7 linked regions of the Homo sapiens genome follow. The protein of the gene in region 1 interacts with the protein of each later gene in a pairwise test. Each region holds a gene or a part of one and is shown in the gene's direction. Other genes may lie near its edges.

The links.
Region 2: the proteins of POGZ (region 1) and SPRYD7 interact in binary tests that used the Homo sapiens proteins (3 or more experiments, as listed by UniProt).
Region 3: the proteins of POGZ (region 1) and VEZF1 interact in binary tests that used the Homo sapiens proteins (3 or more experiments, as listed by UniProt).
Region 4: the proteins of POGZ (region 1) and CBX5 interact in binary tests that used the Homo sapiens proteins (3 or more experiments, as listed by UniProt).
Region 5: the proteins of POGZ (region 1) and POU2F1 interact in binary tests that used the Homo sapiens proteins (3 or more experiments, as listed by UniProt).
Region 6: the proteins of POGZ (region 1) and ZNF76 interact in binary tests that used the Homo sapiens proteins (3 or more experiments, as listed by UniProt).
Region 7: the proteins of POGZ (region 1) and VGLL3 interact in binary tests that used the Homo sapiens proteins (3 or more experiments, as listed by UniProt).

Annotation. Positions count from the first base shown.
Region 1 is NC_000001.11:151,421,018-151,425,506, reverse strand, and holds part of POGZ (pogo transposable element with ZNF domain), read left to right. Parts: intron 1-445; coding exon 446-552; intron 553-1,220; coding exon 1,221-1,558; intron 1,559-1,955; coding exon 1,956-2,110; intron 2,111-4,489. UniProt on the Homo sapiens protein: Plays a role in mitotic cell cycle progression and is involved in kinetochore assembly and mitotic sister chromatid cohesion.
Region 2 is NC_000013.11:49,926,111-49,930,599, reverse strand, and holds part of SPRYD7 (SPRY domain-containing protein 7), read left to right. Parts: intron 1-2,514; coding exon 2,515-2,681; intron 2,682-4,489.
Region 3 is NC_000017.11:57,977,809-57,982,297, reverse strand, and holds part of VEZF1 (vascular endothelial zinc finger 1), read left to right. Parts: intron 1-361; coding exon 362-425; intron 426-1,493; coding exon of another isoform or gene 1,494-1,511; coding exon 1,512-1,695; intron 1,696-2,984; coding exon 2,985-3,146; intron 3,147-4,489. UniProt on the Homo sapiens protein: Possible transcription factor. Specifically binds to the CT/GC-rich region of the interleukin-3 promoter and mediates tax transactivation of IL-3.
Region 4 is NC_000012.12:54,232,145-54,235,473, reverse strand, and holds part of CBX5 (chromobox protein homolog 5), read left to right. Parts: 3' UTR 1-3,329. UniProt on the Homo sapiens protein: Component of heterochromatin that recognizes and binds histone H3 tails methylated at 'Lys-9' (H3K9me), leading to epigenetic repression. In contrast, it is excluded from chromatin when 'Tyr-41' of histone H3 is phosphorylated (H3Y41ph).
Region 5 is NC_000001.11:167,373,684-167,378,172, forward strand, and holds part of POU2F1 (POU domain, class 2, transcription factor 1), read left to right. Parts: intron 1-424; coding exon 425-613; intron 614-2,345; coding exon 2,346-2,472; intron 2,473-4,489. UniProt on the Homo sapiens protein: Transcription factor that binds to the octamer motif (5'-ATTTGCAT-3') and activates the promoters of the genes for some small nuclear RNAs (snRNA) and of genes such as those for histone H2B and immunoglobulins.
Region 6 is NC_000006.12:35,287,235-35,291,723, forward strand, and holds part of ZNF76 (zinc finger protein 76), read left to right. Parts: intron 1-388; coding exon of another isoform or gene 389-411; coding exon 412-611; intron 612-3,018; coding exon of another isoform or gene 3,019-3,031; coding exon 3,032-3,148; intron 3,149-3,406; coding exon 3,407-3,482; intron 3,483-4,043; coding exon 4,044-4,169; intron 4,170-4,323; coding exon 4,324-4,489. UniProt on the Homo sapiens protein: May be involved in transcriptional regulation.
Region 7 is NC_000003.12:86,970,074-86,974,562, reverse strand, and holds part of VGLL3 (transcription cofactor vestigial-like protein 3), read left to right. Parts: intron 1-4,489. UniProt on the Homo sapiens protein: May act as a specific coactivator for the mammalian TEFs.

The DNA of each region.
Region 1 (4,489 bases):
GAGGAGGTTTTTATTGGATATAGCTTCAGTTCTGCAAGATTAAAAAAAACAAAAACCTTAACAAAAAAATCACATACAAATTATTCTTAGCTTATGGGCCAAACAGAAACTGGTAGCTGGGCTGGATTTGATCTGTGTGCTGTGGTTTGCTGACCCCTGGCCTAGAGTTAGAACAGTAAAAGGAAGCCTCAAACATAGTGATCTTGAGCCCAGGGAGGTCAAGGCTGCAGTGAGCTGTGGTCGTGCCACTGCACTCCAGCCTGGGCAACAGACTGAGAGACCGTGTCTCAAAAAAAACAAAAACAAACAAAAACCATAGTGATCTCTCATGCTTGCTTACCCTTTTATATACTTCTCAGGGAGTGTTTGACTTTTTCCCAAAAGGTCAGTAATCTTTTTCCAGTGTCATTGTATTAATCTTATCAATTCTTCTCACTTCTTTCAGTGACCTCTTCCATCCCAGTATTTGACCTCCAGGATGGTGGACGGAAAATATGTCCACGATGTAATGCTCAATTTCGTGTTACTGAAGCTTTGAGAGGTCACATGTGTGTAAGTGATATCACCTGTGATCCAGCTTAAGTGGCTTCTGCCATTTACCTTCATTAATATTGGAAGCTTGTAAGCAGGGGCTCTAAAATGACTGAAGCTTTTTAAAGGGTTACTGTTTCTCTTGGTCTGTTTTTAGAAGAGCTGTGTACTTTGGAATGTGATGGGATACATTTAAAGACCCTCAAATAGATCAGAACATATGTGATCTTACTTTCTTAGTGTGGTAGATTTTGAAACCACACAGGAGAACAGGTTTATAGATAATAAGGACTCAAACCATATTGGCCTCAGTTCATTTTTGTTAATTGTGTCATTGGATGAATCGGGAGCTCTTACTTCCATTTTTTAGCTTTTCATTTTTTGGTATTAGTCCAGATAAAAAGGTTGGAACTTCTTCTTTGCCAGGGAGCTCAGAGCCAAGTTATACTAATGATTAAGGGACCTAAGACAGGCAGGAGGGAGAAATACAAAGTATAGCGCTTGGGTGGCATATGTGGATATACTCTAGAAAAGGAGTAAAACTTGGAAACGCTAAAAAAAACTGAAGGGTGAAAGCTGAATGAGAATACCTGAAACCAAACCGTTAACAAGGAATGGTAGTGAAGTTAAGGAGTTAGCACATTCTAGCCCCCAGGATAACCAGAATGATCAGATGTCTTTCTTTATAGTACTGTTGCCCAGAAATGGTTGAATACCAGAAGAAAGGAAAGTCCCTGGATTCAGAACCCAGTGTCCCATCAGCAGCAAAGCCCCCATCCCCTGAGAAAACAGCTCCTGTTGCTTCCACACCCTCTTCTACACCTATTCCTGCTCTGTCACCGCCTACCAAAGTACCAGAACCAAATGAGAACGTGGGCGATGCCGTCCAGACCAAACTCATTATGCTTGTAGATGACTTCTACTATGGACGGGATGGTGGCAAAGTAGCCCAGCTCACAAATTTCCCTAAGGTCGCCACATCTTTCCGATGCCCACATTGTACCAAAAGGCTAAAAAACAATATTCGGTAAGTGTTTAAGAGCCTTGGAAGTTACCTTGAACAAGAGAAGACTTACATTTTCTTATATATTTTAAGTCTTTCTCTTTGGAGAATGGACCTAACTACTATGCAGTCTTGCTGGGGTTATCATTAAATCAATAACTAGGACTATAGAAGGAGATATTGTGGTAATAAACAAAAGGTAACTGGATCGAGTAAGGGAAAGCAGTATGTCTCCTTTCCCAGAACTCTCTTAGTTTCAAGAACTCATTATCTTTCTGGGCTCAGAAAAGGATATCCCAAACAGGAAGTCTGGGGAATGGAGGGGAGCAGATAATGTTTGTTCTGTGATTTTACCATTATATTTCTAAAAGGCTACCAATTTTTTATGTTTTCTGTACTTTCTCTTTGTGCTTTATTACAGATTCATGAACCATATGAAACACCACGTAGAACTCGATCAGCAGAACGGTGAGGTAGATGGTCACACTATCTGCCAGCACTGTTACCGCCAGTTTTCCACTCCCTTCCAGCTTCAGTGCCACTTGGAAAATGTTCATAGTCCCTATGAATCTACTAGTAAGTTTGGAAACTCTTAAACTCAAGGGGAATATACCTTGCTGTTCACTCATTGAATGGCGCTGGGGGGAGCCCATTATATTTATTTACATGTGGGTAACAGTGTAGAGGAAGTACTTTTCATATTTGTAGCCAGTTCTTTACTTCATTCACCTTGTTTTTTTTTACAAGCCTGACTTTTATTTTGTTCAAGCATGGATTGAGTTCAGTGTTAGATCCTGAATTGTTAGGGGCGTTGATTCAGAACCACTGTAGAAAAACAAATGTAATTAATTTATTTCTTAGGTCTCTTTATAGAAGGAACAGTCATCTATTTGCTCTTCCACTTTAGTTAAACCCTGATAGGTTTTATGTAGGCTAAAAGATAATATTGTGAAGTACTTTATCATTAAGACATTGCTTTCAATGAAATATAAGATGAGCTGGAGTGTTTTCTACACTGTATATTTTATACATGTAGGCTGGACATAAGCTCAAAGAAATTAAGTAGGATAAAAGATAATATGGCCGGGCACGGTGGCTCACGCCTGTAATCCCAACACTTTGGGAGGCCGAAGCAGGCAGATCACCTGAAGTCAGGAATTCGAGACCAGCCCGGCCAACATGGCGAAGCCCCATCTCTACTAAAAATGCAAAAATTAGCTGGGTGTGGTGGCGGGCACCTGTAATCCCAGCTACTCGGGAGGCTGAGACAGGAGAATCGCTTGAACCCGGGAGGCGGAGGTTGCAGTGAGCTGAGATCATGCCATTGCACTCCAGTCTGGGCAACAAGAGCAAAACTCCATCTCCAAAAAAAAAAAGATAATATTATGAAGTACTTTATCATTAAGACAGTGCTTTCAGTGAAATATAAGGTAAGCTGGAATGTTTTTCTACACTGTACATTTTATAGATAGATGTAGGCTGAACATAAGCTCAAAGAAATTGAGTCATTTGCTTATGAGCGTACACCTCTAAATACACCTCTACTGGGGATACATAGTGAGGATTTAAGCCCAGTATTGAGAATACTTCTCATGTCCTTTACGGGATTTCCAGTTTTGTTGTAAAGACAAAAATTATGTAAATATAGGAAAATGTGAGAACAAGATAGTATATTATAAACATAGACATTTTAAGATATCATTGATAGGTGAAATACTTCAGAGAAGGGAAAAAATCCTTGTGGCTAGGTTTCCAAGAAAGTCGTGCTTAAATTTAAGAAAGGTTTAGATGGATGGAGAGTAGTAAGAAAAGCTTTTAGGTGATTGAAAACAGCATGATCAAAAGCATAGAAGACATATGCATATTATCTGGATGCATTTGCTACAAGTAAAAATCCTTAACTAAAAATGAATTAAACAATAAGGACTGGGTGTGGTGGCTCACACCTGTAATCCCAGCACTTTGGGAGGCTTAGGTGGGTGGATCAGTTGAGGCCAGGGGAGACCAGTCTGGCCAACATGGCAAAACCACATCTCTACTAAAAATACAAAAATTCGCTGGCTGTGGTGGTGTGCGCAGGTAATCCCAACTACTCAGGAAGCCAAGGCATGAGAATCACTTGATCCCAGGAGGTAGAGGTTGCAGTGAGCTGAGATCGCACCACTGCACTCCAGCCTGGATGACAGAGCGAGTCTCTGTCTCAAAACAAAAGAAAACAATAAGAATATCTGTTATATCATTTAACTGAGAGATACAGAAATGGATGCTTCAGCCTAGAATTTGACTGCCCTGCTGGTTTTCAACAATTCTCTTGTCTCTGGCTCATAGCAGGGTGGCTGTATAAGTGTCAGGCACTATGTCCAGATAAAAAATTGTTAGACAAAGAAGAGATCTTATCTTCCCATCTTTCTTTCTTGAATCTGTTTTCTTATGAGTGAGAATTGCTTTCCTTTTATATCTCTTTGACCATTTATTGGCAAGGGAAGTGGGATTGACATTAATGGCTTACAGTAACACTAGGCAGTAGAAATACGCAAGCTTCATGAGTAATTTTAATTTTTTTCACTTTAAATACAGTAGCGCTCCCTTATCCTCAATTTTTCTTTCTTGAATCTGTTTTCTTATGAGTGAGAATTGCTTTCCTTTTATATCTCTGACCATTTATTGGCAAGGGAAGTGGGATTGACATTAATGGCTTACAGTAACACTAGGCAGTAGAAATATGCAAGCTTCATGAGTAATTTTAATTTTTTTCACTTTAAATACAGTAGCGCTCCCTTATCCTCAATTTTAGTCTCAATCACAGTCCAAAACTAGGTGAGTGCAGTACAATAAGATTATTGAGAGAGACACCACATTCACATAACTTTTATTACAGTATATTGTTATAATTATCCTTTTATATATTATATATTTTTAATTGTTAATCTCTTTGCCTAATTTATAAATTAAACT
Region 2 (4,489 bases), on another chromosome or scaffold:
CTTTTTTTTTTTCTTTTTTGAGATGGAGTCTTGCTCTGTCACCCAGGCTGGAGTGCAGTGGCGCGGTCTTGACTCACGGCAACCTCCGCCTCCCGGGTTCAAGCAATTCTCTTGCCTCAGCCTCTTGAGTAGCTGGGATTACAGGCATGCACCACCATGCCCAGCTAATTTTTATATTTTCAGTAGAGACAGAGGTTTCACCATGTTGGTCAGGCTGATCTCAAACTCCTGATCTTGTGATCTGCCCTCGTCGGCCTCCCAAAGTGTTGGGATTACAGGCATGAGCCAGAGTTTTTCTCTTAACTCAGTTATTAAGATACCCTGATTCAGTGTTTTGAAGCAGTCATCAAATTCAGAATTCAGATAGAAGTCTGCAGTCTATATTTCTCTTTTTAAAATTTATGGAGTTTCTTGAACTGTAAAGCAATTCTATGTGATTATAATAGGTTAGTTAACTGTGCCTGTATTGTATATGGGAAAACTTTTAAAATAAAAGCTTTACTGTAAAGTGATCGGGCATAGTGGCTCACACCTGTAATCCCAACACTTTGGGAGGCCGAGGTGGGCAGATCACCTGAGGTCAGGAGTTCAAGACCAGCCTGGCCAACATGGCGAAACCCCATCTCTACTAAAGATACAAAAATCATCCAGGCATCGTGGTGGGCACCTGTAGTCCCAGTTACTCGGGAGGCTAAGGCAGGAGAATTGCCTGAACCCGGAAGACAGAGGCTGCAGTGAGCTGAGATTATGCCACTGCACTGCAGCCTGGGCAACAGAGTGAGACTCCGTCTCAAAAAAAAAAAAAGTGGCTGGGCGTGGTGGCTCACGCCTGTAACCCAGCACTTTGGGAGGCCGAGGGGGTGGATCACGAGGTCAGGCATTTGAGACCAGCCTGGTCAACATAGTGAAACCCCGTTTCTACTAAAAGTACAAAAAATTAGTCAGGCGTGGTGGTGGGCGCCTGTAATCCCAGCTACTCGGGAGGCTGAGGCAGGAGAATCGCTTGAACCCAGGAAGAAGAGGTTACAGTGAGCCGAGATCGTGCCACTGCGCTCCAGCCTGGGCAACAGTACAAGACTCTGTCTCAAAAAAACAAATACAAAAACAAAAACAAAACAAGCTTTATTGTAAATAAACTTCTAGTGAAATACTGCATCAGTAATGTGGGTAGAGAATAGGAAAATGAGAGTGGAGTAAATGAATCTTACTATTACTTGGCCAGCCTTGAATGATATAAAATTTCCCCCTAGGGCTTATTTTCTAAATTATTTTTACTTATTTATTTATTTATAGATGGGGTCTTGCTCTGTCACCCAGGCTGGAGTGCAGTGGCATGATTATAGCTCAGTGCAGCCTTGAGCTTCTAGGCTGAAGCAGTACTCCTGCCGCAGCCTTCCCAGTAGCTGAAACTACAGGCTCAAGCCACCGTGCCTAGCTCTAAATTAGTTTTAAATAATGATTTTCAATGGGGCATGGTGGCTTACACCTGTAATTCCAGCGCTTTGGGAGACTGAGGCAGGAGGGTTGCTCAAGGCCAGGAGTTTGAGACCAGCCTGGGCAAACATAGCACAACCCCATCTCTACAAAGAAAAGAAAAATTAGCTGGGTGTGGTGGCTTAAAATACTGGGTAAGAAAATGATTTTACACCTTATTGTTAATTTCTCCTCTCCATGATATTGCTTATGGTATATATTGTTTGTCACTCATTGTAGATGTAAAAACTGAAGACAGTACATTCCCACTTTTCAAAGGGAGAGCTTGAAATTGAACTCCAGGCCATTTAAATTCAATGTGTAGCTTTTAAAAAATCTTTTTGAGATAATAATAATGATGATGATGACAGCTAGCATTTTCTGAATACTTACTGTGTGCTTTACTTTCTCATGCTGTGGAGTACTTACACTGTTCAAGTGCTTTACTTGGATTATCTTGTTGTATCTTTTCATTACCTTGCAAGGTGAGTACTGTTAGAATCCTCAGTTCACAGATAAGGGAACAAAGAGAGGTTAGGTAATTTGCGCAAGATGATGTAGCAGAGTCAAGATTTAATCCTCATTTGCACTGTTCCAGGGCCCACTCTCTTATCTCCTAGGCTGTACTACATCTGTGGAGAACATAGTATAGTTTGCAAACTACTTTTATTTTATTTTATTTATTGAGACAGGGTCTGGCTTTGTCGCTCAGGCTGGAGTGCAGTGGAATGATCATGGATCACTGCAACCTCAACTTCCCTGGCTCCAACAATCCTCCCACCTCAGCCTCCTGAGTAGCTGGGGTTACAGGCACATGCTCCCATGCCCAACTAATTTTTGTATTTTTTGTAGAGACGGGGTTTGGGCATGTTGCCCAGGCTGGTGCAAACTACTTCTAAAAGAAGATTTTTTAAAAAGAGTAATAGAAAACAATTTAGTGTTAATACAGCACTTCCTTTAAAAAGTTTATACTCCCTTTTAAAATAACTCGATGGTTGTAGTCTTCAGATTTTGAGGGCATTTAAACTGTTATATTTTTAGGAATCTGGGGTATTGGTGTTGCAACTCAGAAGGTTAACTTGAATCAGATTCCTCTTGGCCGAGATATGCACAGTCTGGTGATGAGAAATGATGGAGCCCTTTACCACAACAATGAAGAGAAAAATAGGCTGCCAGCAAACAGTCTTCCGCAGGAAGGAGATGTGGTGGTGAGTTCCCTCATGGAGTTGCTTTCCACTGTAAATGACTAAATTTGAACTGCTTTTAGTATCTACAGCTTTGTCTGGGAGTTTGTGGTTTGAATTCCAAAGCAGTGGGATTGGATCTAATGAGATGGTGCATTTTCCAGGAGAGCACTTGGTGTAGATGTTGCACCCTACTCAACTGCCCCCTCCTTTTTAGAGCTGCCACTGGCTGGGAAAATCAGTGTGAACCCTTATTTCTACTCTGGAGAATTAATGACAGGCTGTCTGCTGATCACACATTCCTGTTTCTCTCACATTAGAGAAAACTTGGCCCACAATTCTAAAAGTTTGCTGAAGCTTATATTAGAAAATACTAGTTATTTTTAAGGCTGGATATCTCTTAGGGAAAATGTTCACATTTATTTCTTCTTCTTGTTTTTTTTTTTTTTCTTAGAGTCTCGCTCTGTCACCTAGGCTGTAGTGCAGTGGCATGATCTTGGCTCACTGCAACCTCTGCCTCCCAGGTTCAAGCTATTCTCCGGCCTCAGCCTCCCGAGTAGCTAGGATTACAGGCGCACACCACCAGGCCTGGCTGATTTTTTTTATTTTTAGTAGAGACGGGGTTTCGCCATGTTGGCCAGGCTGATCTCGAACTCCTGACCTCAAGTGATCCACCTGCCTCGGCCTCCCAAAGTGCTGGGATTACAGGCATGAGCCACCGCGCCTAGCCACACATGTATTTCTTAATTTGTTATGAAATTCTATTAAGAGAATTACAGCATTTTATCAGAAATGTTCATCTTCATTAAACTTAACCTAATTAAACTCTTCAGAGAACGGAACTCAAAATCCTAAAGCTTGATCGTAGAAAAGTTTTTTTTTTAGAAAGCAGAGGATAGTAAAAGTTACACGTTATTAAGACTTTTCTGTTTTTACTCCTAACTGGCTATATTTAACTCTTTACAAAGCTAGCACATTGAAAATGTAATCCAAAGATTTCTTTCTGTCTTTTCCAGATACTTCCTTCCACACTGCATTATCCAAAACCCCTCCCTATCCAGAGGTCAGGCCATTGATTTAGAACAGAGTCCTAGAGTCTCCTTCAGCCGAGGTGCCCTTGTACACTGAACCTTGGGTTCTCAATTCTGATATCAAGTTGAAAGGAATCTATGAATAATGAGAGAAGGATTCTAATAAGATGAAAAGATAAGAGAAATCCAGGTTAATTAATTATGAAAAGGTACAGTATTTTAGAAAGAATGAAGAAAGGTGTGGAAATTAAGATTTTTAATTACGGCCTGATCTTTCTTCTCTTTTTTGCAATTTAAAAAATATGAACAACTGTAAGTTTTTAATTGTTGGAAGTTTTTTTTCCAGAATTGACTAAAGAAAAAAAGGAGATGAAAGGCATAAGCCATTAAAAAAATCTGCTTTTTCCCATGCTTTTTGAATAGTTGGTTCTGTATTTGTAGATCATTGCCAGATGCCCATAATATGGAACATCCTTATTCAAATGGTAATTTCTTGAAAGAGAATCTTGAAGTCAAGTTGATGCTGTCAACCTGTTTACCCTAAAAGATGAAATTCAAACATAAGAAAGGATAATCAGTAACAAATGTTTTTCTTTGTTGATGAACTGAAACTTCTACCTGCCTTCCTATCTCATTTCATTCATTGTAATGTCTGATAGCACAGTGTGACAGACTGAAGAATGCCACTTTTAGTCTGTCAGTGTTGTTAAATTAGACTTCGAGTTTTCATATGAGCTCATTCTCATAAAAGGAGAACTAAAACTATGAAATACATGCAGAGCCAAGAAAAGAAAAACATTA
Region 3 (4,489 bases), on another chromosome or scaffold:
ATTTTTCTGAGAGCACCAACATTTCACTAATTTTCATTTATAAAAGCTTTTAGAGTTAATATAGTGGTAGCTGTTTCTGGCAAGTGTTAAGACTAAAACTTCGGGTATTTTGTAATTGTAAAGAATCAAGACCTAATATGATTTGATGTTGACTAGGAGAGAAAATTAACAGGTAGAGGCCTAAGACTTTGTTCATGGTAAGAGAGGGAAGGAGACTTGCACCGGGGGAGGGAGGTTGGTAATTCTGCTAGCTTTCCCTAAAATGCACCCCTTCCCAATCTGCCAAGCATGTGAGCATCACATAAGTAGCATTTCTCTATGTGTTCGATTATATCTTCTGTTGAAACTCTCTTTTTCACAGGCCTGACCACTTAAGCTGTCATGTAAAACATGTCCATTCAACAGAAAGACCCTTCAAATGCCAAGTAAGAGTTAAAATGACTTATCCTTAGTGTAGCACTTAATGCACATTATCCAGAAGGTCTGAGCCAGTTGAATCTCACCATTCTTGAATAGTCTTAAAATCACTGACCTGAGTAAATGTGGCCCATTTGACTTCTAGTTTTATAAAATATAACTGACAGCTTCTGTTTCTGTAAAGCAAGATCATTTAAAAATTTAAGCGTGTTGTTTTTTTTAAGCTATATTTCCCTTTCTTTGGGCAATAGTATTTTTTGTTAGGAAAAAAAAGTTACAGTCTTGCAAAGGTGGTTGTGTATTTGAAATGAATAAAAGAATAAAGGGCTTTAATTTCTGGGTTGATTATTGAAGTTGTTTTAACTGTAATAGGAGAAAATAATGAATTTTTCTCCCAAATGTTACCACTTACTAGATTTTTGTTTGTTATTACCAAATTGGAACACTTTCTAGTTGTTTAAAAATCTATTCCAGTTAATGATTTTATTTGACATCAATTATAATAACGAAAACATTAAGAATTTTGCTAAATCAAATGACTGTTTTAGGCATTGGTAATTTTAGTTTGTTGCTGGAAGTCTTTTAGTACACCTTTCAGTTAAGTTTGTTAATGACTGATTTTATTAAGTAAATGATTTGAATGCTAAGAAAGATCTAATTGGAGGAAGGAAGCTAGTGTCATTGAGTGAGTGCCTGCTGTGTATACCAGGCTTTTCTTAATCCACCAGTAATTTTGTGAGAGATGTTATCCCCATTTTACAGATGAAGAAGCTTTCAGATAGGTTAACCAACTTGTTCAACATTACACCATTTAGTAAATTGTGGAGCTCAACTTAAACCCAGGTTTAACTTACCCTAAAGCTTACATTTTTTGTGCTACTCTGTGTTGATGTATTTTCTTCCTTCAAAATGGAAGAGTCTAAAATTTATCAAGAGTTTTATTATGATTATGATTCTAGGTAACATATGCAATTAAAATTCAACTAGTTGTCAGCTTGCTGATGTGGATAGGGTAATGCACAGAATATAACGTACTTCAAAATGAGTAGAACAGGATAGTCTATATTTAAAAAAAGTTTTCCTCCCTCATGCAGACGTGCACTGCTGCCTTTGCCACCAAAGACAGACTGCGGACACACATGGTGCGCCATGAAGGCAAGGTATCATGTAACATCTGTGGGAAGCTCCTGAGTGCAGCATACATCACCAGCCACTTAAAGACTCATGGGCAGAGCCAAAGTATCAACTGTAATACATGTAAACAAGGCATCAGTAAAAGTAGGTGGTGCTTCAGATTTTCTTTCTTTTATATTTCAGATGGGTGAAATATGCATGTTTTCATATTGTATCAAAGGTATTAATATTCACCTTACGTGTTTCCTCCTATTGCCAACATGTGCAAACAGGCAACAATGGACAGAGTATATTAATGTCAGAACTATGCTTTACTTTCATGTATGCAAACAGCATTGATAAGCTAATAATAACCTTTAAGGTGAAAGCAGTATTAATAAGCTTGCTTTTCAAACCCAAATCTGTAGAGAAATGAGATATCATATCCACTTGAAGGTTTAAATGCTTTGCTTGCCTTAAATTCAGAGTTGAAGATAGAATACTTGCATTTACCCAGGCTTTTTCTTTTAAGATTGCCCTAACCACTAGAAGAAGGCATTTTCCTAATCCTTTATTCTATTATATATGTACTTTATGCAGTAGAAACATCAAATTCTCAAAAAAATAGGTGGCCACAAGAGAATGGGGAAGAAAGCTTAATGTGTGTTAATCTATCCATTTTTACTTCTTTGTAAGTACACTGGGTTTGTAAGTACACTTCTTTGTAAGTACACTGGTATGTTGTACTTTATAAGCATTCACTTCTGTTTTTTTTGTTTTTTTTTTTTTTTTTTTTTGAGACGGAGTCTTCACACTGTTGCCCAGGCTGAAGTGCAATGGCACGATCTCGGCTCACTGCAACCTCCGCCTCCTGGGTTCAAGCGATTCTCCTGCCTCAGCCTCCCAAGTAACTGGGATTACAGGTGCACACTGCCATGCCCGATTACCTTTGCTACTTTTTTTGTATTTTCATAGAGACGGCGTTTCACCGTGTTGCCCAGGCTGGTCTCGAACTCCTGAGCCCAGACAGTCCACCTGCCTCGGCCTCCCAAAGTGCTAGGATTACAGGCATGAGCCACTGCACCCGGCCTATAAACATTCACTTTTAGTGTACATTATTGTGATCAAATAAAAAATTTTGTTGAATGTTGATTAGTCCTATATTAATAATATCAAACTTCCATTTTTAAAGACACTTGCTTTTTTTTTTTTTGATGGTTTTTTTTTTATAGCAAAGAGTCCTTTTCTCTTTTATATTGATTTTTGCTAGTTCTCTAGACTTTTTAGTGCTTGTTTATTTTGACCAATATAGACACAGCAGCAAAAAAGATGCACTTACTAAGAGCTATCAGGTTAAATGGTTAAGATCACAGAAGCATGAGAAGTCAATTTTGAAAAAAAACGGCAACAGTTTTACAGGTAGATACAGTGTTTTTGGTTTGTCTTTGTAATAGCATGCATGAGTGAAGAGACCAGTAACCAAAAGCAGCAGCAGCAGCAGCAGCAGCAGCAGCAGCAGCAGCAACAACAACAACAACAACATGTGACAAGCTGGCCAGGGAAGCAAGTAGAAACACTGAGACTGTGGGAAGAAGCTGTTAAAGCAAGGAAGAAAGGTAAGGCACAGCTTCCAGTGTTGAAAATATGGCTAGAGAAGTGTTTTCATTTAGTATGCCAAGTGATCAAAGTAGAGAAGCCACAGTTTTAGGAAATCTAGCTTAATGGAAACATGGAAATAGTGCATGCTGGGAAATATCTGGTAAAGTATAGTTATTGGCAATAAAGTGTCCAGATAAGTTATTACTAGGAATTAAAAGTTCTCAGTACTTCCTATCATGTTCTTTCTTTTGATGTACTTTTTGCTACAAACCTGGATCCAAATTTGGTCCTTTGCTATGCTCAGAGTTGCATTTTTATATTCAATTTGATGTCAACCTCCATGCATTATGGGCTTTTTTTTTCCTTTCTAAAATATTCCCACTTTTAGAGGTGGATATCCTTGTGTGTACATAAGTTCATTTTCTTACAACTGTGCTATTTTTGCTCTGTAGTGTTCTTTTTCATTGTATTATTTATTACATGTTTCAGATTCTGTAGTGTTGATGTCTTTTCTCTTGGTCACACCCTTAATCTCCTTCAGTCTATCACTGGCTGGCCTTAACATATCTAGTCTTCTGCTGCTGAGGACTTTACTGTAATTGTTTAAAAAATTTTAAATGGTTTGCTTTTCTCTCGTGTATATTTTCTAACGAATCAGTTGGAGTATCAGTTTTCAACGTACTTTTCAACTTACTAGTACAGCTTTGGCTTCTGGACTATTGTGCAGCCATTTCAAATGAATCATTTTGTCAATGTATCATGAGCCAAAGGACAGATTTGTAAATTCCTTCTTCCTCCTCCACCTCTACAATGTCTTACTATGTTAAATGTTAAGGAATCCTCTATCTGTGGGCTCCTCTGTATGTAATTCCTTTTCTGTGTAGTTTCTTCCATCTTTTGCTTTCATGTAGTGTGGCTCTTCCCTTCCTCAGAGTGATCCCTTCTGTTTTTTTTTTTTCTTTTTTAGACAGAGTCTCTCGCTCTGTTGCTCAGGCTTGAGTGCAGTGGCGTGATCTCGGCTCACTGCAGCCTCCGCCTCCTGGGTTCAAGTGATTCTTGTGCCTCAGCCTCCCGGGTAGCCAGGACGACAGGTGTGTGCCACCACACCCGACTAATTTTTGTATTTTTACTAGAGACAGGGTTTTGCCATGTTGGCCAGGCTAGTCTTGAACTCCTGATCTCAAGTGATCCACCCGCCTCAGACTCCTAAAGTTCTGGGATTACAGGCATGAGTCACCACACCTGGCCAGAGTGATCTCTAAACCTCCTATACTTGGATAAAAATAAAAGGAATAGCATTCTTTTTTTTTTTTTTTCTTTTTTTGAGATGGAGTTTTGCTCTTGTTGCCCAGGCTGGAGT
Region 4 (3,329 bases), on another chromosome or scaffold:
CCCGGCTAATTTTTTGTATTTTTAGTAGAGACGGGGTTTCACCTTGTTAGCCAGGATGGTCTCAATCTCCTGACCTCATGATCCACCCACCTCGGCCTCCCAGAGTGCTGGGATTACAGGCGTGAGCCACCGCCGGGCCGAGAGGGTGATTTCTAAGCAGAGAATTGTATCAGTTATGTGGAAACCTTTGCCAGAAATACATATACCTTGTATATTAAATCTGAGTCTCAGATTTAATCATCGAAGCGTAGCTGGGTTAAGAAACAGTCTGATCGTAAGGATGTTGTCGATTCTGACCCATGGATGACCACAAGAAAAAGATATTTATTTCTGCCTGGATAATTGAGAGTTGACTAACTTTGGAAGTCAGAATTCCCAGGAATTAGAGTAACTGCTCTGGAAAGTTAAAGTGTGAAGTTTTTTAGATAGTTTCATAAAAACAATTCTGGTTTCTTTTTGCTTGTGCTGACTTTCTTGGATTTTAATCTACCTCATCTTGTCTTTTTAGAGTTACTTCAACTTGTCACTTTAACATTGTGCTTGACTTTGGTTGTTTTCTAAGATGGAATTTTTCCTGTTCATTGACAGCTTGTTCTCTTGCCTTTTCATTCTGATCCTCATTTCATCTAACATCATCTCATATTGCTCCTCTGTCAAGAGAAATGTTTTAAAATAGTTTAAAGTCTTGTTTTATGGGAAGAAAGTGATCCTCCAATGCTATTTGTTTCTGAGGTCAGTAAGAGAAGGAGTTAAAACAAGGCAGTGGGGAAGGGAATGAATCCTGCACTGGAGGCAAAAGCTGACAAGGAAAGAGCCATTAATTAAGACAATTTCAAAGTCAACTGATTGTGATCATTAATGTCACAATAGATCAAAACCTAATTATCACAGCCTAGGTAAGAGCCATCAGTATTAATCGGAAAATCTAATAGGAAACTATTATCAAGAAATTAGGCCAAATTGAATGCAGTGAACTTTTTATCTTGGCATTCTCTATTTTTTTGTGATGTCCCCTGGCATTGGCAGGTGTGACCCTAACAGTCGATTCAAGGCCAAGTGGTCAGTTTGTCAGCCTTTTTTAAGGGATTTCTTTTTATTTTTAGGAATTCCAAACAGAGTTAACCTAAACTGTCATTGCCAAAAGATCAGTCTTAAACTTTCTTAGCACCTGTACCTGTTTAATGTGATCAGCTATCAGTGAGGAAAAAAAAAAAAATCTATTTAGGTCTTGGAATGGTTCCTGTACCTAGAGTATCCATATTGAACCTTTTTTTTTTTTTTTTTTTTTTTTTTTTGAGATGGAAACTTGCTCTTTTGCCCAGGCTGGAGTGCAGTGGCGTGATCTTGGCTCACTGCAACCTCCGCCTCCCGGGTTCAAGCAGTTCTCTGCCTCAGCCTCCTGAGCAGCTGGGATTATAGGCGCCTGCCACCATGCCCGGCTAATTTTTGTATTTTTAGTAGAGACAGGGTTCACCATCTTGGCCGTGCTGGTCTTGAACTCCTGACCTTGTGATCCGCCTGCCTCGGCCACTCAAAGTGCTGGGATTGCAGGCGTGAGCCAGCACCCGGCCACAGTATCTTTATTACAGCTCACTGCAGCCTCAATCTCCTGGGCTCAAATGATCCTCCTGCCTCAGCCTCCCAAGCAGCTGGGACTACAGGCGCACACCACGGTGTCTGGCTAATTTTATTATTTAAAAAATGTTTTGTAGAGACAGTCTCCCTGTGTTGCCCAGGCTGGTCTCCAACTCGTGAGCTCAAGTGATCCACGTGCCTCAGCCTCCCAAAGTGCTGGGATTACAAGCATAAGCCACCGCACCCGGCCCCTAGTGAACATTTTACTGTATGTGTTGATAAATCATCTTTTGAGTTTCTGTTGTATGTGGGGACTTCCTACACTGGCTGCTGTGAAGAGGTATGGAAGAAAGGAGAGGCTTTCTGCCTAGAAATTCTTTGAGAACACCTGAAAAGACAGTTTAATCATGTCACAACACTCTTAAGGCTCAAGTCAGTGTTCTGGTTTCCGGTAGCTTTAGGATTGGATTCTAAACGAGGGCTGGTGGTGAGTTTGGTGTTTGTCTCGTGTCACCCTCACCCCTCACCTCCTCAGTTTAGGATAAGAGACATAATGATTTCTACCAGAATCCAAAGTAAATCCAAAGGGGGAGAAAAGACATAACTGTTTTTTCTTCTACCTTTTTTTTGTTAAAGAGTTACATCTCTCACAGGAGGAAAGAATTCAAGAGTCTATATGATTAGTTACAGAGAATATTTTCATCCCCTCTCCCTGAATAGAAAAGCAGGGGTCACCATTTGTATCCTTACCCTTGAGGTGTTTTTGAAGATGCTGTAACTCTTGAAGTTGAGCTGAGGCAGAAAGGTTGGAAAAATGCAGCCCTCTGGGTATTGTGGGGAGGGATGTGATGTAGTAAGAGGGTGTTTTGTGGTGCTAGGATTCCCACGCCACCAACTTGCAGCTTTATAAGAGCGCTACCAAGAACCACCACTGGGGAAAAGGTTCTTATTCATTGTTTCTGTTGGAATGTGATCTTGCTTTCTGGATTTTAGGAATTCAGGTTACTCAGTATAAAACTCTGAGAAATCAGTGTGACTTAGTCCTTCACCTCCTAAGATAAAGTGAATATTTCTTTACAAAATAATTCATGTCCTTAATGTTAAAGATGTAATTTTATTTTCAAAACATCTATAACATGACTTTCAGAAGCAGTTCATTTTTCCAAGATTCCTCACATTATACTAGATAAATAATAGGCCCTCAGTTAATACCCTTCAGTTATTGAATTAATCTAGTTTGTGGAATGAGGTGTATCCTGCCAACTTCCCTCTGCTCCCAAGTACACTCTGAGAGGTAAAATGCTCTGGGAAATGGAACAAGAATCGAGTGGATGCTGACTCTGTGTGCCCACCTCCTCAACTGATTGATAATGGTTGACCTTGGGCAAGTCACTTCTTTCAATGCCTCAGTTCCCCATCTGTCAAATGGGGTTAATAATACTGACCTACCTCACAGGGGTGTTGTTGTGAGGCATTGTAAATCAAAGTTAATAGAATACTTCAGGGTCCTCTGTGGAGGATGTCTTGAGCCAGAGTTTAAGCCTGACACACAGGCTTTGGTCCTCACTGAGCTGTCTCCAAGACTGGAACTACTTAGTGACTCGGCAAATTTTCTGCCCCCCACCCCTCATCAAAGCTGCTAGTTCAGATGTTGACAGTGTTTTCATGAATGTTGGAATCTTACTAGTCCAGACTTACTTAGGATGTTGTTGGGGAAGGCACTTGGGATTTTCTGTGTCTTGCATTCACAGAGG
Region 5 (4,489 bases), about 16 Mb from region 1:
CATGCTAATGGGAAGCAGCTGGGCCTTATCAGTTCTTTCCTTGGTTATATCCAGCATCCTTGTTCCTCATTCATCTGACTAATCACTTGCTGTTTGGTTGTGTGTAAATGTATTTTCATATCTTGTCAGTGGTGATTCTTTTTTTTTTTTCTTGCTTACTAGTTAATTACTTTTTTGCCCAAACCCTAGGGCCCTGGACAAGCTTGAATGATTAAGTCCATAGTGGGGACCACCATTTTAATTTAAATGTTCTGCTAGTAATGGTAGTTTGATCACTGATGAACATTTTAGCTGTCTGCTAAGCAAGTGAAGTTGGGTAGCTGGGGACTGATATCATTTGAGTTACCTATTTTAAAGCAGTTGGCTTGCATTAGGAGACTTTCTCCTTCAACACTTTCCCATAATGTGTTCTGGTTTTGTTTAGCTTACTTTGACGCCTGCCCAGCAACAGTTACTACTCCAGCAGGCACAGGCACAGGCACAGCTGCTGGCTGCTGCAGTGCAGCAGCACTCCGCCAGCCAGCAGCACAGTGCTGCTGGAGCCACCATCTCCGCCTCTGCTGCCACGCCCATGACGCAGATCCCCCTGTCTCAGCCCATACAGATCGCACAGGTGAGTGAGGAACTCCAATAGCTGGGGCAGCAAGTGAGGAATAAAGTGGCAGGTTTTATTTAATGTTAGATTAACTTTTTGATTGTTAGTGTGGGGCCTTAACTGCCTGAGGAGCTCTAGATCAGTGAGGTAAGCGGTACCCTTCCTTACCACTGAATTAGAAATAATGTTTGTTTGCTTATTGTAGTTGATATTGTAAACATATAGCTGATTATTTGAATAACTGACTTTATATTAAGTGACAATTCTTGAATAATTAGCTGGCATATTTTTGAAGCAGGGGATTACTGTATTTATTTTAATTAGCTAATTACAGCAGACATGGATTTTTTTTCATGTGCTCTGCGGTGAATGTTGCCACCCATGTGTGAGACAGTGAGTCATCTCTGCTATGGAGTGATTAACATTATTGCATTAGAATGTTGTTTGGTTTCAATTTTCACATTTTAGGGCAAAGTATCTAGAGATAATAAAAATTTATTTAAGAAGCGCCAGGCGCGGTGGCTCACGCCTGTAATCCCAGCACTTTGGGAGGCCGAGGCGGGCGGATCACTAGGTCAGGAGTTCGAGACCATACTGGCTAACACGGTGAAACCCCATCTCTACTAAAAATACAAAAAATTAGCCAGGTGTGGTGGCAGGTGCCTGTAATCCCAGCTACGCGGGAGGTTGAGGCAGGAGAATAGCGTGAACCCAGGAGGTGGAGCTTGCAGTGAGCCGAGATCGCGCCACTAAAAAAAAAAAAAATTAAGAAGCATACACAATAGTACCAAGGAGGAAAATAAATAAAATCTTTAATCTCAAGAAGAGGAAAAAGGTATAAGTAGATATATCAGTAAAATATATGAAGAGTTATTATGAGTCTAATTGTTAGACAGCTGTCTTTATCCGTCTCAGAAAAGACTCAGAAATGGACTTAACTTGTAGCAAGAGTTTGACTAACCATTTAAAAAGAACTAATTAACTGTAAGAGTAGAGAATAAATATCAGACTAGTCTTTATACAATCTTTATCAAGATAATGTTTTGATTTTGGCCACTTTCTCATCACCAAATAAATGTTTTTAGTGCCTAAGCTGTGAGACCCTATATTAACATTAGTCTAAATAAGATAACGTTCATGAAAACACTTTGAAAATTATAAAACAGTAGGCCAATGTAAGGTGCTATTGTTGTTAGGGATTAAATTTTTATATGGATAGCTATTTTTGGTTTTAAAAAATTGAATACTTTAGAACATGTGGAAAAGGGCAAAAAAATTGAATACTGATTTTTCAGTTGAGTTAGATAAGCTGTTGTCAAATGTCATAAGTCATTATAGGCCCTTTATTGATGGAAATTCAGACATAACACGATCAATTTTTATTTAAGAGAAAGATCAATCAAATATTTAAAAACTGTTTTCTCACTTGATTTTTAAAACCCATATTGGTCTTTACATGATAAAAAACAGAAGTATATTTGTTCTGAGGGAATTTTAAAGAAACATTGAAAATTAGGCTTATCATAACAATATATGTCAGTCCACAAAAATAGTCAGTTGCAGAGGCTCCAGGTTGCTTCACGTGCTTTGTCAAGCACACACAGAGCATACCCTGTTTGGAATATGAAAGCATGCGAAGTATTTACTCTTCTTTATTTGGATGTGACAGAAGTCATCAGCTGGAAGCCTTATAATTAAGCGAACTTTTATTTCAGAATCTCCAATCCATGTTTTAATTCCAATTTTTCAGGATCTTCAACAACTGCAACAGCTTCAACAGCAGAATCTCAACCTGCAACAGTTTGTGTTGGTGCATCCAACCACCAATTTGCAGCCAGCGCAGTTTATCATCTCACAGACGCCCCAGGGCCAGCAGGGTGAGCTCCTCCTTAGAGCTTATTAGTGGTATACCAAGGCTGTTCGCTGAATGTTACACATGCATGAACTACTATCATTTTGGCCCTGAAACTATTAGACCAATGTTTTTATTAAATTTTATTTGATTATAAACTTTCGTTTAAAAAAAGTTTTGTTTTGTTTTTTGTCATAAATACCACATTATTGAAGGTTGCCCTGAACTGCCATTCATCTGCTTAATCACTAAGGAAGAACCAAGAGTTTGGCCAAAAGTCTAAGTGAAATTATTCAACATGCCAAACATAAATTGGATAAGTTGCTGCTAGTGTTTTGATTGTTTTTCATGGAAGTGTATTCAAAGAATATAGACTGAGTGTTGAAAGTATGTGCTTCTAACCATTGTTTTTTTAATTTAAGGAGGGAAGACTGCTATAATAGAAACTACAAATTTCGTGAGTTATAAAAAACATCTTTGAGTCATTTGAGTGGTAAATGTTATATAATTAATATATCAAACAACCACTCGTCTGTAAGGTCAGTTAATGTAATCAGGGTGAAGAATGTCAGAGTATCAAGGCTTCAACCCAAGGAACATTAGTGCATCACTAATGATTCTTTATTATTTCTGAGTGGGTTTTTTTGCCTTTTTTCTTCTTGATCATTCATTCCAAAATCTTTTGTCATGAAATAATTATTCTAGCATATATTCAAGATTCAGAGATAAGTAATTCAGTATTTACTTGCAGAGGGCTCACAATTTAGTGGCAGGGAAACAGACCTAAATTATGTTAGATTTGATATGCACACAATGCTATGGGAACCAAGCAAAGAGACCCCTGTAACTTTGTGCTCAGATAAGTCTTCACAGTGAATTTGGGAAAATACATTCATAGGCTTACAAAAGAGAGAATGTCAGTCTTGGAAAATGAACAGCATTTGCAAACCTTAGAAACATGGAAGAAAAATCAATAAGCTGTGTTTGAGAACTATAAGTAGTGCCTTACAACTGCAGAATAAGTTTGCATATGCAGGTAATAGTGAAATTTGAACCCAGAAAGATTAGCAGAGACCAGATCATTAAAGAACCTTAGATTAAGTTTCCAGGAGTTTGACCTTAAATCCTATAGCTTAGTGCTTCCTAAGATTTGATTTATTTAAGAGTCATTAATGGCCAGGCGTGGTGGCTGACGCCTGTAATCCCAGCACTTTGTGAGGCCGAGGCAGGCAGATCACGAGGTCAGGAGATCGAGACCATCCTAGCTAACACAGTGAAACCCCATCTCTACTAAAAATACAAAAAAAATAGCCAGGCGTGGTGGCAGGCGCCTGTAGTCCCAGCTACTCAGGAGGCTGAGGCAGGAGAATGGTGTGAACTGGGAAGGCAGAGCTTGCAGTGAGCCAAGATTGAACCACTGCACTCCAGCCTGGGTGACAGAGTGAGACTCCGTCTAAAAAATAAAAAAATTAAAAAATCACTTGAGGAATTAGAAAAGTTTCCTGAGCCCTAACCCCAACCTCCCAATTACTTTTTTTCTTATTTTTAAACTATTAGGTTCAGGGTTACACTCAGGTTTGTTATGTAGATAAACTACATGTCATAGGGATTTGATGTACAGATAATTTCATCACCCAGGTAATAGGCATAATACCTGATAGGTAGTTTTTTCGATTCTCATCCTCCTCCCACCCTCTACCCTCAAGTAGGCCCTGGTGGCTGTTGTTCCCTTCTTTGTGTACATATGTACTGAAAGTTTTATGGCTGTATAGTATTCCGTTGTGTATATGCACCACATTTTTTTTAATCCAGTCTAGTGTTGATGGATATTTAGGTTGATTCCATGTCTTTGCTATTGTGAATAGTGCTGCAATTAACATACGCATGGGTATGTGTCTTTATGGCAGAAAAATTTATATTCTTTTGGGTATATACCCAATAATGGGATTGCTGTATCAAATGGCAATTCTAAGTTCTTTGAGAAATCGCCAAACTGCTTTCCGCAATGGCTTAACTAATTTACATTCCCACCAGCAGTGTAT
Region 6 (4,489 bases), on another chromosome or scaffold:
CTGAGACCAGTGGGAAGCATTTAAACTGTTGAGGCAGTTAAGTGACATGGTCACATTTGTGTCCCGCAAAGATCCCTCTGGATGTTGTGCTGCCTGGAGGGAACTAGAGGGGGTGAGGAGCGACTGGTCAGGAGGCTATTGTGGTCATCTAAGCCAAAATGATGATGGGCCCCTGTCAGGTCCTCAAGGAGCTTGTGAGTTCCCATTTAGTGTACCATAGGAGACCTCATCCTTAGGTGAGACAGCTGCAGAAGGAGGGCCAGCAAGAGTGAATCACAAAGTGAAGGGCCATGAGAAATTGGATGTTGAAACCCTCCTTGGTATATGTATCTCTCATTAACTTAAAGCTAGGGTCCCAGCTGTATCTCTTCCCCTTGTGTGGCATCAGGGCTAACCGCGTGTTCCCTGCAGAAGGCTATGACCCCAGCACCCTGGAAGCCGTCCAACTGGAAGATGGCTCCACTGCCTACATTCACCACCCTGTGGCTGTGCCATCGGAGAGCACCATCCTGGCCGTACAGACAGAGGTGGGCTTGGAGGACCTGGCAGCAGAGGATGATGAGGGCTTCAGTGCAGACGCAGTGGTGGCCCTGGAGCAGTATGCCAGCAAGGTGAGCACGCACAGCGTGACACGGTCTGTCACTCTAGACAACCGGGCCTGGCCTGCGCACTGCCTCTTGGCCCTGCCAGAACTTCACCTCTCAAGAGGACAAGGGCAGCCCTGTGCTTGGGCACCATGTGGGATATTCCCTTTGCCCCTCCACCCCAGCTCCCCCAACTCACCTGTCACACATCATTGTCTAGGGCATGCAACACAGCCTGGCCTGGCCGCTGACAGCTGTTTACGCTCACTTTTGTTTACGCTGTCTTTGCAGAGGGAAAGCTGCCATAAGAAACAGTGGCATCCTTATGCTGAGGAGTTAGGCCCAGCTTCACTTTGGCTGCTGTAGTAATCCTCTGCACTAGCTGGGAAAGCCCTGCCAGTGACTTGTATTAGCTTTCTAGTCCACTGAGGTAATTGTATTTATTTCTTCTCTGTGACTCAGTCATTTGGAAAATTAACCTCAGTGGGCTATGACAAGGGCATGTGCAACAGAACAGCTGGGATTCCTGGATTATGAGGCCCACACAGTAGCTCAGCTGGAAAGGAAAAGGGTCCTGGCTCTGCAAATACCAGTCAGTCCAAGTTCTTTCTGCCGAAACCATGGTCCTGCATGTGGGGAAAAGGGTACAGACATCTCTGAGCTTTCCAAACCAGGGTGTTCCCTTCCTGGAATGACTACAGAGCCTCAGGCTGGATGTGCCAGGGCTTCCTGCACGTTCCTTCCTTCCAGCAGTTTTACCCGAAGATGGGGGAGGTTTTTTATTTATAATGAAACCAGTGTGACTGAATGATGGAGGAAAAAAGGAAGTCCTCATGTCTTTTCAAAATGAAGCACAGGCCGGGAGCAGAGGCTCACGCCTGTAATCCCAGCACTTTGGGAGGCTGAGGCAGGTGGATCGCTTGAGTCCAGGAGTTTGAGACCAGTCTGGGCAACATGGCGAAACCTCATCTCTACACAAAAATACAAAAACAAATTAGCTGGGCATGGTGGTGCGCACCTGTGGTCCCAGCTACTGGGAAGCGGAGGTGGGAGGATCAGGAGGCGGTGACTGCAATGAGCTGAGATTGTCCCACTGCACTCCAGCCTGGGCAACAGAGGGAGATCCTATCTAAAAAAAAAAAAAAAAAAAAAAGTCACAAAACTTTACAGTAGGCTACATTCACTCCCACCCAGGTTCCCTGAGGTATATCTTAGAGACCAAATTTGAGACTCGATGTTGATGTAAAGAGAAGTGGGTTTTATTTAAATCATGAGCCCTGAGATCTATGCTTGCTCTACCTCTACCTAGTCCAAACTTGGGTGAGTCCCTCCTCTCCTCGACCTCAGCTTATTCCTAATATGATGAGATGGGACCAGATGATCTCAGAGGTCACTTCCATCCCTGATGTCCCTTGATTCCCGTGATTACCCCAGGAGCTAGTGAGACATGGAATGAAATCCAAGTGCCTGTGTGGGTTAGCCCGCCAAGCAGGTCAGGCCACCTCTGACCCTACCCTCTACCCAGAAGCTGTTTAAGTGTCCGTGAAGCTCTCAGCTGCTTGAGCCTCTGAGCTGGAGCCTAACTAGACAGACCTTGCCATGAATTTGGCCTCACCCCTCTGTCCCCTGCTCACTGTAACTTGTAGAGTTCAGTTTCAGGAGCTCCTGGAAAGACCAGAGTGTGATTCTGAAGCATTCTAGAAAGAAAGACTAAGGGATAGTCCCACCAGGACCCTGCCCAGGAAAGCAGAAGAGCAATAAGGGCTCCCTGCATCCAGAGGCTGGTGTGAGATGGGTGGCTTTAGCAATATCCCAGAAGAGGAGACAAAAGGGGAGGACTTGTCAGCTGGGTGCTGTCATTAGAGCTGACATTTCTGGTGGAAACTGCAGCACTCCCCTGGGTGCTTCTGGTCGTGGCCACCTCACTCTGGGCCCCAAGTCCTATCAGATGAACCTAGGTGAGCTCATCTCCACAGCAAGCCCCCTTGTTTATGTACTTTTAAGCACTAGTTTCGTGCCAGGAGGAAGGGGACCCCTCCCATCAGAAGATGGAGGTCTTGAGAGTTGCAGGCTCCTAGGTGTGTGTGCTTAGAAGGAGGGTTTCTGGCACTTGGTCCAGTTCAAGCATGGCCATTCAGACAACCTCCCTTTTCACCTTACCTAGCTGTCTATGTGATAGCCTTTCTTCAATAGCCGTCACAGCCACTATGACCTGTAGGTCTCCCTTTATCCCATCAGAGATGGGTGGTGACTCCCCATGCCCACCCTGTTTCTTCTGTAGCATGCCCCAGCATCTGTTCCTTGTCCGTCTAGTTATGTTCTTCTGCCCCAGAGGCCCCTGACAGGTTTAACCCTGCCTGTTGGGTCTTAAGCTGCCAGCAGGGCCCTGTGTCCCACCTTCTTCACTGGGGAGAATACATATAGGGATCTCAAGACTTTTCCCCCAGGTTCTTCATGACAGCCAGATTCCCCGTAATGGAAAAGGGCAGCAAGTTGGAGACAGAGCATTCCGCTGTGGCTACAAGGGCTGTGGGCGTCTCTACACCACCGCTCATCACTTAAAGGTAAGGTTGCTGGCAGACAGCCGTCAGCTCTGCAGTCTTCCCTCCCAGGCTGTAATTCTACCTTTCTGCTTTGATTGGAATTGGTCCCTGCCCTCACGTTGCTGGAGGGAAGAAATGAGGGTACACAGGAATGCCAGCACAGAGCGCTTGACACACATGAATGGTACAGGAGGGAAGAGAATCAGGGTCCTAAAGAAAACCAAAGAGCCCTGGTCATACCCTTGCTCCTCTGAATTATGTGATTGCTTGTCCTCACAGGTGCATGAACGAGCTCATACAGGTGACCGTCCATACAGATGTGACTTCCCCAGCTGTGGAAAGGCCTTTGCCACAGGTAACCTGCCTGGTGGGCTGCTTCCAGTTGAGGGTGGAGGGTTCTCGTTCTGTTTGGGACCTCTCTGAAGGGAACCCAACACCAGGCTGCTTTCCTGGAGAAACTACCGTCAGAGTACTCTGACTTGCAGGGTGCTCTCTCTGGAGGAAACCTTGTTACGGGAGTGCAAGGCAGCATGGTTCAGGCCAGCAGAAGGAGCCTGGAGGGTTGGTGGAGAGACCCAGCCTCTTGTGTCAGCTCTGATGCCAACCAGCTGTGGATTATTGGGTGGGCCATTGCATCTCTCTGGGCTTATTTTCCCCTCTGTGAAACTAGTACCTTTAGCCATGAGTTCTCTAAGTTTCTTTTCATGCTCATGTTCTGGTATGGCTCCAACTGCTCCTGGAGAGGGAAGCAGGGCAGAGTGGGCTTTTCCAGCCCCTGCCCAGGGCAGGGGTGGGATAGAGGCAGACATGGGCTTCTTGAGCCAAAGGAGGTGGAGAGCCTGTGCATGAGGTGGACGGTGGAGGATGAGACCCCACTGGGTGCTCATCTCACCCCCTGCCTGCCACATATGGACAGGCTATGGACTGAAGAGCCACGTTCGTACCCACACTGGTGAGAAACCATACAAGTGCCCAGAGGAGCTGTGCAGCAAGGCCTTCAAGACCTCAGGAGACCTGCAGAAGCATGTCCGTACCCACACTGGTATGCTGGGCCCTGCCCACTCCAACCCCATTCCCTGGGCAAAAGGAATTCAGCTTGCCTTTCAGACTTAGACCTGGAGCCCAGTGCCATCCCCAGCTTGCTCCAGCATGGCCCTCTTTCCCACACCCCTCCTCACATCCCACCATTTGCATAGGTGAACGCCCGTTCCAGTGCCCTTTTGAGGGCTGTGGCCGCTCCTTCACCACATCTAACATCCGCAAGGTACATGTGCGCACCCACACAGGCGAGAGGCCCTACACCTGCCCGGAGCCCCACTGTGGCCGCGGCTTCACCAGCGCCACCAACTATAAGAATCACGT
Region 7 (4,489 bases), on another chromosome or scaffold:
GTGTTTTTCAGCTGTAAGGCAAACAATGATAGGAAGTATATGTATTTTACTTGGCACAATGTCTTATCAGTTACCTCTAATCCTGCTATATATTCTAACAGGGTTGAAAGAATTTCATTTCTTTCCATTAAGAAAACCTAACTAGCTGGGCGTGGTGGCTCATGCCTGTAATCTCAGCACTTTGGGAGGCCGCGGCCGGGCAGTTCACCTGAGGTCAGGAGTTCGAGACCAGCCTAGGCAACATTGTGAAACCCCATCTCTACTAAAAACACAAAAAATTAGCCAGGCAAGGTGACAGCCACCTGTAATCTCAGCTACTTAGGAGACTGAGACAGGAGAATCGCTTGAACCCGGGAGGTGGAGGTTGCAGTGAGTCGAGATTATGCCATTGTACTCCAGCCTGTGTGACAGAGTGAGACTCTATCTAAAAAAAAAAAAAAATAACAAACCTAATGAATATGATTGGTCCCTTATCTCCATACAAATATATGTTTCTTGATACCCTTCTCCTAGAGTTATTATAAAGATTTTAAAAATAATCTATATGATTAATTTAGCACAGCGCTAAACATTGGTTTCAAATATGCCTATGCACTGATCTTTACAGAAATGAGTCTGTGTGTATCTGTAGAAAAGGGCAGGAGCTATGTCAAGCCATAGCAGAGTAAATCACTGACTTAAAACCATACAGAATGCTAATCTTACTGATATTGCAGTTGCAAAGAAAATCATCTGTTGGCTCATTGATGTACATAGGGTCTGCTTGGGCAATTCATTCTCATGGGAAAAAGCTCTCAAAATAAATACGAAACCTAAATAGTCAAATGGAGAAAGGAAAAGGAGGGCCTGTCTGATGAGCTGGCTGATACTGGAAATGAACAGAATGTCCATAGGACCAAGACATGGGGAAAAAAGTGAGGCGTGACTAATCTCACCCTGCTGCCTCCAAGGAGTATCGGCCTCTGACATCATCCCTTGAAACTCTCATTGTAGAGTCACAAGGCCCATTTTGAGCAACTCTAGAAGAAAGTAACTAGAAGGCAATCTTTGGACATAATGGTAATGCATAATTACTGAATGACAGAAAACACTGGAACACATGTCATTTCACTTCTGACCCAGCCATTTATTTTTATGGGAAGAACAACAAGAGAATGGCAATGAAATTACAGCAAGAACACTTTAGCTTAAGAATTGAGTAGAATTTTGTTTTTTAACTGATATTAATAAAAAATGTAAAAATGTTACCTTTTAGCATTTAATAATCATATTTTAATCAATATTGATTCTAATGTGTTTTCTGGAAATTTTTAAGATGACTTAGAGTTTCTATAACACTTCATTGTCCCATTTTCCTTTTAATTTAGTTTTTGTTATTTTCAAAATTAATAAGCTGTATCATTCTTTAAATTTTGAATCTTATCTTTCTTAAATTTTTTACTCGGAGATTTTAAAAAATTTTTTTGGAGGTAATGTGTGTGTGTGTGTGTTTTTTTTAAGAGACATTTACAATCAGTGTAAAAAGTATCCCACTATTGTGAAATTGAAAGAAATACCTGGTATACCATGTTGCAGTCTAAATCAGATAGTGAGATTACTGGGTTTGCTTTTAGTGGATTTTATTAGACAATGTATCAATATTATCATTTTCTTTTTTGTCTAGAAATAAACTCGTGTGTATGTATGTGTGAGTAATATTTTTAACCCCAAATGAAAATTGAACCAAAATTACAGTTGGGCATTTTGTATGTGTTAGACTGTCAGTGTCAACATCATCCAAATATTGGTTAACATCACCTGTATACCAGGTAATATTGAATCCAAACTCACCATATAGTGTTAATAGCATAAAGTATTGTATTTTCTTCACTCACCTGAAATGTAATATTGCATAGAAATAGCCCATGCAGTTTTTCATATGTCTTCTTCATCCAACAAATGTGGCTGTGATTAAGTACTCATAAGCAAAGAATCATGTAATGAAAAAAATTTACATACATATGAAATAAGCACACTGGTTCTCAGGCATGAAACAAAGCATATCATCTCTTCCTTTGCATCAAGACTTTTTTTTCTTAAACAAGCAAGACACCGAATAGTGATTTTGAAGTATAAACTTCTTCATAAACATATTTTCAACTCAATATTGTTTCAATTGTAAATGTAACAGGTTTTTTTTAAAGGGCTGCATAGATCTTTGCAAACTTTATATTCATCTCAAGAGACATATTGACTGGGAAAATATTAAGTTCCTTTTAATTTTATTTTTCCCTGGAGCATTTTAAAACTTTGTTCAATCTTTATGGAGTGCATTTTCAAAAATAGATTTCTACTTTCAGTAATAATGTCTTCACTAATCATGGTACAGTACTTCATAAATAGACCAATAATATTTTTGATAAATAATTGATTCATTATTCCCATTTGCGCATGCATATTCAAACTGCATAAGCATCTATAAAATAAGATTGGCTCCATGTACATATAAATGAGACTAAAAGCATACAGAGAAATGGTATATACTCTCCGTACTTTTGACATCTTAATGGTGGATTTTAATAAGGGGAATTCTATATCTCTGGCACGTACTTGTGGTTGGGGCTCAACGGTTTTCATAATAGGATTCTAGCCCCTCGGGAGATGGAAGTTAGGAGCAGAATGAAGGCTTTGGTCCCAAAGATGGGAGTTGTGAGAGCAAAGTGGCAGATGTGTGGTAGCAAGGATGAACTATGTAGAATAAGGAGCCTCTCTAAACTCTCTGTATGGGTTTTAAGCTTTAAACATTGATGGCTTTCATTGTGGGTATGACAGAAATATTTTACAAATGACCATCACCTAAGGCAAATTGAATTTTCTTCTTACAACTTACACGACTTTCCTTCTTGTCATTAATAGTATTTTTCATATGTTGCAAAGAGACGATTGTTAATTCAAGAAAACATAGTTACCTCAATGTCAGTAAGGCTGATTATAGGTGGTATTTTTGGATAGATTGTGATTTTAACAAAGTCATTCAATTAAAAGTTTCCTGAGGTTGTTTGAAGACTTAAAGTGTGCAGTTCCATTCTTTGCCTTTTGAAGAACACCATTTCCTAGATTTCCCCAAGTGTTTTGAGATCGATGGAGATGTTGTGAGAGAGGGAATTGACTGTGAATAGCTGTGTGACCACAGGATGAATGGGATGAATGGTCATGATCATAGCTCTGGTGCCCAGCTGAAGGGGAGAGAATAGAAGAGCTTGCAGTGCTGCTGCCACAGCCTTTAGGGGAGAGGAAATGTTCACACACCACAGTAATGCCGAATTATGTTAACCAAATGATATATGTGGTGGTTGACTGAAGTTTTTTAAGCTTTCCCTGAGGCAAGAAAACTATGGCCTGATATTTATAGAGAGAACATAGATAATGTCAGAGTTTTGAATATTCTTATTTTAAAATACTTCTTAAGATATCCTCCATTCATACCCTTCATTCAATGGAAAGATCTAGCAAGGTTCTTTTATGTGGAACTCAGTATAAAAATACTCTCTTAAACTCACATGACTAACATCTTTAGAAAATGTCTTCTTCTGTAAATAAAAATAATCCATAGGGCACTTCACAGACTGTTAGCAGTATTAAGCCGTAGATAATTTGAATTAATGAGTTCAAATACTTCATTTTCTTAGTGAAAGAAAGTAAACCATGGAAAGATCAATGGGTCCATATTGGGTGATAAAATGAGATAGGGTAAGACCTAGGATCAGAGCTGGGCTCCTTGGTCTCCCAGCCCAGTGCTTGTTTAGTTATACAACACTGTAGGCAACAGGCTACAGGTGGAGGCACTGATCTTTCCACAAACGGATTTGACTGTGTCACTTACTAGATTAAAACCCTTCAAAGCCCATTGAGACCCTGCCACCTCAGAATAGAATTTACATTCAGTACCATGGCCAGCAAGTCTACACCCATCTTGGTCCTCATTTCAATAGTCTCAATTTTTCTGTTGCCACCTTCTGCCTATGGAACTCTTTTTGTCTTTCAAATGCTGCTGCTGTCATATGTGTGTGTGTGTGTGTGTGTGTGTGTGTGTGTGTGTGCGTGTGTGTAATATATGGCCTTTTCTTATGTGCTGATCCATTTGCCTAAAGCTTACTTCCCAGGGCTAGCCCCCACTCAGTCTGTCAGCTTCCACTTATCACTCTCTAAGCTGGGTCGGGGCTCTCTGTGCTTCCTGTTGGGAGAATACCTACCGTGTCACCTTGCACATGTCTGTTTTTACTTATCTATCCTTCTGCAGATTGTGACTAAAAATGATGTCCATTTGGTCATCCCTGACGCCTATGTTTGATACATAGTAGGTCGTGTATAAATGTGTTATTACGATTGAGTAGGAAATTGAACTGATGAAGAGTTAGGGGATCGTTTTCTTTCTTATTCGTCTCTAAGTGCTATTCTTTGATATTTCCCTCTCCCCAAAATACTTCCTCAAACCCATGACTTCTACTTG